Linked DNA regions of Homo sapiens. The protein of the gene in region 2 purifies or fractionates together with the protein of the main gene of each other region. This does not show direct contact. Each region holds a gene or a part of one and is shown on either strand. Other genes may lie near its edges.

Region 1 (3,500 bases), on a different chromosome or scaffold from region 2:
TTTTATAATACATATGAAAAAAACTCCTTTTTAGACTGAACTGATGATGTACAATGATATAATCAGAAAAAAGTTAATGAAATATCTGCTTCTAAAGCACCAATGGTTTTTATATACATAATTGACAAAATGGCTTAAGAAATTTGATTCCTAACTTAGTGTACAGCAGAAAGACAATGGCTCTATTCTACACATACTACTTAGTTTACCTATACATGTATAAAGAAAATAAATTTTAGCCAGGTGGGATGGCTCACACCTATAATTCCAGCACTTTGGGAGGCCGAGGTGGGAGAATTACTTGAGCACAGGAGTTTGAGACCAGCCCTGACAACACAGTGTAACACTGTCTCTACAAATTTTTTTTTAAGTTAGCCAGGTATGGTGGCACATGCCTGTAGTCCCAGGTACTAGGGAGGCTGAGGCAGGAGGGTCACTTGAGGCCAGGAGGTCAAGGCTGGAATGAGCCATGATTGCGCCACTGCACTCCAGCCTGGTCAAGAAAACAAGACCCTATCTCAAAAAAAAGGGGGAAAAAGCTGATGTCCAAGATCCAATAGGGGTTAATACCTGATGACTGCATGTTTAGCTTATTAAAATGTCAGGAATTCTGTGGAAAAAGCTGACTGGTACCTGACCTTTGCCCACCATTTTAGAGCCAATGGACAGGAAGAGGAGGTATGTCTCTGCTGATGTCAAGCTGTAACTGTGCAGAGGAGTTCAGGATGACGATGTGAGATGAAAATCAGTCAGGCCCTGCCATGCCTTCATTCCATGAAGAATCCTGGCTGCAGGAGCACATACTTTTCCTAGAGAAAGTATCCTTACATTTTACCAGCTTTTGGTTTTTAAAATACTGCTTTAAACAGTTAAGTTACTACTCACAGCAACAGTTATAAGTAACAGAATGCTTTACCTTGGCCATCTTGCCATTGTTTCACCAAGTTTTGTGAAAGCAGACCTCTCCTCACATCTGCCACACCACCCCACGCTTGAGGGTGAAGTGTCCTGTCCACTGTGGTCACGAGGAGGTGACACAAAATGCAGCAAGTGCAGTGAGTGTGCGTGTGCATCTCTAAGTCAAGGGGACCAGTAATGGGCCTGTTATTTATAGATTGCTTTAAGATGTCCAAAATACATGTTTTATTAGTGGTATAGTTAATTCTAAAATGAAAAAAAATGTTATATAAGTAACCTAATGTGTTTATTGTAGGAAATACCAAAAACCATAACAACGAAAAAACCAACAACTCTATTCCTTTCTGACCACCACTGTTAATTTTCTGGTATATGCCCTTCTGGTTTTGAAAACAAAAATCAAAATGCTTTTCATCAGATCATCTTCCTGAATGAAGGCATGCATCAAATAGCAGAGTTAGAAACTAAGAGAGTCTCTACCTGATGAAACAGCAAAGTATGAGTGTTTAATCAGGAGTCTATACCATGCCTTCTAATGTTAACGACCCATCAGTCTCCAAATACAATTTACCACAAAATGTGCTAAGTTTGGAATGGTTTTCTGATAGGATCCTGAGATTCCCACATATATTTATCAGCTTACTACTTTTAAAACGTCTATGCAGGCCAGGCACAGTGGCTCACGCCTGTAATCCCCACACTTTGGGAGGCCGAGGCAGGTGGATCACGAGGTCAGGAGTTCGAGACCAGCCTGGCCAATGTGGTGAAACCCCATCTCAACCAAACAAATACAAAAATTAGCCGGCCATGGTGGTGCCCACTTGTAATCCCAGCTACTCGGGAGGCTGATGCAGGAGAAACGCTTGAAATCGGGAGGCAGAGGTTGCAGGAAGCAGAGGGCGTGCCGCTGCACTCCAGCCTGGATGACAGAGTGAGACTTCGCCTTAAAGAAAAAAAAAAAGTATGTGCAACCAGAGGGCCGGGTGCAGTGGCTCACGCCTGTAATCCCAGCACTTTGGGAGGCCAAGGTGGGTGGATTGCTTGAGGTCAGGAGTTGAAGACCAGCCTGACCAACATGGTGAAACCCTGTCTCTACTAAAAATACAAAAATTAGCTGGGTTTGGTGGCAGGCGCCTGCAATCCCAGCTACACGGGAGGCTGACGCAGGAAAATCGCTTGAACCCAGGAGGCAGAGGTTACAGTGAGCCAGGACTGCACCACTGCACTCCAGCCTGGGCAAAAGAGTGAGACTCCATTTCAAAAAAAACCAAAAAACATATGCAACCAGAATATATCAAAAGTAACTTTCTGCCCAGCAAGGTGGCAGAAATCCTGTAATCCTGGCACTTTGGGAGCCTGAGGCAGGAAGATCGCTTCAGCCTGGGAGGCAGAGGTTGCACTGAGCAGAGTTCGCGTCACTGCGCTCCAGCCTGGGCAACAGAGAGACTGTATCTTAAAAAGAAAACGGGAAAAAAAAAAAAAACACACCAACCCAACAACCAAAAACACTCAAGAGATAAAAAGCAAAATTCAGGATTTGTAGGTAGAATAACACAAATTTTAACTGTTGCCAACAACTCAATTTTTTAAGTAAAGCAGGATACATACATTATGACCTTGAGCCAGATTCTGCCTTTGGCCACCAGTTTTCCAGCAAATCCTAGCAAACATCAAAGCCTGCACCCATTCTGCTGCAGCAGCAGGGACACTCAACACCTAAGGCCCTCGTTCATAATTCATACAAAAGGCCCAAGGACAGCCCGCCTCCAGGCAGGTTTGTAGGCCCCCAAGGAGCCCGGAAGGCCAGCCCCTTCAGGACTCAGTGTGCACTCACCTGCCACACCTGCCCATGGGGGTGCCCCTGCAGCTCACAAGGCCTCAAGCAGCAGACCCAGTCTCCTCCAGCAACACACCATGTCTGCAACACCTTCACCCCTTCCCTCTTCATCTCACGTTTAGTAAAAAGGTAAAAGACAAATGTGACAAGCAGGTGCATTTACAACTATGTGAAGGAATATTATGTTTTAAATGTCCCAAGAAACACCCATCAAAGGGGCTGACACGACCACACACGAAGAACTCCCAGTCTTCCATTACAAAGCAAACAACTGACACTTGTCTTCAAGTAGTTAATCCAAAACTTCTCAAAATTACATAATAAAGATAAAACAGGGCCAGGCGCAGTGGCTCATGCCTATAATCCCAACACTTTAAGAGGCTGAGGAGGGAGGATCACTTGAGCCCAGGGGTTTGAGGCTGCAGTGACCTGTGATCACACCACTGCACTCCAGGCTGGGCAACACAGCAAAACACTGTCTGGAACAAACAAAAGAAAAAAAAAGAAAAAGAAAACCCAAATTTATTAAGAATAAAACCATAGGCCGGGCACGGTGGCTCATGCCTATAATCCCAGCACTTTGGGAGGCCGAGGCGGGCAGATCACGAGGTCAGGAGATTGAGACCATCCTGGCTAACACAGTGAAACCCCACCTCTATTAAAAATACAAAAACTAGCCGGGCGTGGTGGCGGGCGCCTGTAGTCCCAGCTACTTGGGAGGCTGAGGCAGGAGAATGGCATGAAC
Region 2 (3,500 bases):
TTAACGTCGGTCAGTTGTGTCTAAATCCCGAAGTATAGAGTGCAGAAAAGCCCAGCATGTCCAATCCATAATGAGGCATGTCTGACCCCTCCCTTTCAGTCATGGCCTAAACTATTTTTTCAGGTTTCTTTGGGGTCCACTTGGCTAAGAGGAGGGTCCGTTCAATCGGTTGGGGGCTTAGAATTATATTTTTGGTACACTTGTTATATCACAGATCCTTTCAGTCTTTTATGGCCATTTGACTTGGTGGGCGGATATGACCCAAGGGGATGGGAATAGGAAGTCAGTCAGCTTTCTTGGCTTATAAGCTACCTTTATGAGTAAATGTGTAAATGAAGGAGTCCTGCTTGGGATCTGTGTTACCTTATTGGGAACATAATTTGGAATTTGAAATTAGGGTTTTTTAAAAACAGAATGTGAATAAGTACTTCTGTTCACATTTTTTCCTGTAGACTTTGCAAAAAGGGATAGCATGGCAAGACAGATGGGTTCCTGCCATCTCTCAATCTTTTTACCTTTGGTATGATGGCAGACTAAGCGAGTATATGGACAGGGCCACTGGATCTGGAAGACAAAGCCCTATGTGGAGAAAGTGATGCCCCTGTGTTGAGGCAGCCTTCTTGTTTCTTTTGCAAGCACAACTGCTGTCCCAGACAGTGACAGCCTATCTTTAGCGAGTGGGATCTGGAGTTACTGTGGTATTTGGAGAGCCAGCCAGTCTGCCACAGTTACCTCAGGCTGCATGAATAATTTCTCTACAAAAAATGGCAGCAGTTTTCCATCATAACTGCAGTTTCTGGTATCTGATGCTGGAATTCATTTCTAAAGCCAGAGTAATATCACATTAAAATGAGCAAATCTCCAGACACTGATTTTTAGCTGCTGGATTTTTTGATTGTACAGTGTTTACTTCTTTTCGCTTCCGGGGGAAGAAAGTGGGCTCATCTCAAAGCCTTAAATAACAGTCATGAAAATTTCACCGTGTGACCACAGTGGCATGATGGATGGCATCCGAGGAACAGAGGGAAGGAAGGAGAGTGTTACTGTGCAGGGAATTTGTTGTCATTTGAAATTAAGGTTGGGACATCTCAGTGAAATCATTAAAACCTAGGAACTAAAATGAAAATAAAGACCTGTACTCAAAACTCTGGCTTAAGGAATTGGGTTGCTTGGAGGCAGAGAGAAAATTAGCCAAAGAGTAAAACTACAGCATTTGAAATATGAAGAGAAAAAGTACAAATTGGATTTTATAAAGAGATCACTAGAAACTTGAAGAGAGAAGAGGATCAGCTTTAGAAGCAAACTATAGGGGAATTGGGAAAGGAAAGTTTAAAATTTGAAATATTTAAACAGGCCATTACAAAGATAAAAGGCTTTTGGGAAGACTTAGGGCCTAGGGCTTCTCTTCATGTGAAGCCTCTCGTATCTCTAGGACACCAATATAGGGCAGAGTCTTACTATGAGACTTTTTCTCCTGAACACCCCTTCACAGTCCCCGGTAAGCTAGATTGGGACATATGAGAACTCCTTTCTCTTAGGCCAATTGCCTCCTTTGTCCATTTCCTCTTTGCTGTTTCATTTGTAGTAAAAAATAGTCTTAAATTTGAATGTTTTAAAATTATAACTAAAAAGTCTTTAAATACAAATCTTAAGACTGTGCTAAGATAGAAATTTGCTAAGCAAATCAATCTATGAGTAAAAAAACAATTGCATCAAGATTCCATATTTAACATTAGCTGTAGCCAATATTATGTGCATAGAAAAATATCAATCCAAATGAAAGAATTGACTTCAAGTTAGAAAATAATATGGATTCACAATCCTTCTCCCTTCTTATTCAAAACCATGCAGGTAATATATGCTTTAAACACTAAAAATGATGAGCATGAATCTGCAATTCAAGCCCTCAAAGATGCTCATGAAGAAGAAATTCAACAAATTCTTGCTGAAACAAGAGAAAAAATATTGCAGTATAAAAGCAAAGTAACAGAGGAGCTAGACCTTAGAAGAAAGATTCAAGTTTTAGAATCATCATTAGAAGATCACATAAAAATGAAGCAGCAGGCTTTGACAGAATTTGAAGCTTATAAGCACAGAGTTGAGGACATGCAACTTTGTGCAGAAGCCCAGCATGTCCAACGCATAGTGACCATGTCTAGAGAAGTCGAAGAGATTAGAAGGAAATTTGAAGAAAAATTACGGAGCTTTGGACAACTTCAAGTACAGTTTGAAAAAGACAAACGATTGGCATTGGAAGACTTGCAAGCTGCTCACAGACGGGAGATACAAGAGCTATTGAAGTCACAGCAGGATCACAGTGCCTCAGTAAATAAAGGCCAGGAAAAGGCAGAGGAACTACACAGAATGGAGGTGGAGTCCCTAAACAAAATGCTTGAGGAGCTAAGACTTGAACGGAAGAAACTAATTGAGGATTATGAAGGCAAGTTGAATAAAGCTCAGTCCTTTTATGAACGTGAGCTTGATACTTTGAAAAGGTCACAGCTTTTTACAGCAGAAAGCCTACAGGCCAGCAAAGAAAAGGAAGCTGATCTTAGAAAAGAATTTCAGGGACAAGAAGCAATTTTACGAAAAACTATAGGAAAATTAAAGACAGAGTTACAGATGGTACAGGATGAAGCTGGAAGTCTTCTTGACAAATGCCAAAAGCTTCAGACGGCACTTGCCATAGCAGAGAACAATGTTCAGGTAAGTAAAGAATATTATATTCAACACATGGATTTTTTTTCTTTTAAAAATATTTGTTTTGTAGGCTGGAGAGCAGTCTGGCCCACTTAGAATCAGTGGCTTCACACCACTTAGACTTTTTTTTTTTTTTTTTTTTAACTTTTCCTGCTTTTCCTTTGTGAGAAAAATCAATGACAGGATAATTTGTATTACCCTGTAGTTGTTATTTCAGACTTTCAGATATTAGGGGCCCAAAAAGACAAGCTTAAAACCTTGTCTAATTATTGGCTAGGCACAGTGGTACACACCTGTAATCCCAGCACTTTGGGGGGCCCAGGCAGGAGGATCGCTTCAGGCCAGGTGTTAGAAACCAGCCTGGGTGAGTGAGCTTAGCGAGGTAATACGCTGTTCCTGGGGGGGGGGGCGGACAATATTGCTAATTATTTACAAAAGGATTTTAATATTGGGCTTAAAGTTTAAATACATTTTTTTCTTTTCCTTTCACTAATAATGGTTTGCCTGCTAGCTGATATTTAGAATTTGATCAAGAAATTGCTTGCTTTCTAAACCTGAATTTAATAGGGGTATTGCACAAGTCTGGGGGAAAAAAATGCCGGAAGTCCACAAGTTTTGTTTTGTTGGCTTAGAAAATTTCATAGCCATGTTTTTAATATCTGTGCAACATTAGAATGGATTAGAAAGTGTGGAATAGCCTTTCCTGATTGGGTCATGTTTATGAAAACATCAAGTTATAAATCACTAATACTTACAGATTTAAAAATTGGTATATAGTTTAGTATGACTTCTGAATAAGA

What was found. The genes of interacting proteins can lie anywhere in the genome.
Region 1: the proteins of FAM184A (region 2) and PCNT purify together in Homo sapiens (affinity purification with mass spectrometry, with the first as the bait; one large-scale study listed by BioGRID). This does not show direct contact.

The regions. Positions count from the first base shown.
Region 1 is NC_000021.9:46,327,156-46,330,655, reverse strand, and holds part of PCNT (pericentrin), read right to left. Parts: intron 1-3,500. UniProt on the Homo sapiens protein: Integral component of the filamentous matrix of the centrosome involved in the initial establishment of organized microtubule arrays in both mitosis and meiosis. Plays a role, together with DISC1, in the microtubule network formation.
Region 2 is NC_000006.12:119,023,165-119,026,664, reverse strand, and holds part of FAM184A (protein FAM184A), read left to right. Parts: intron 1-1,851; coding exon 1,852-2,706; intron 2,707-3,500.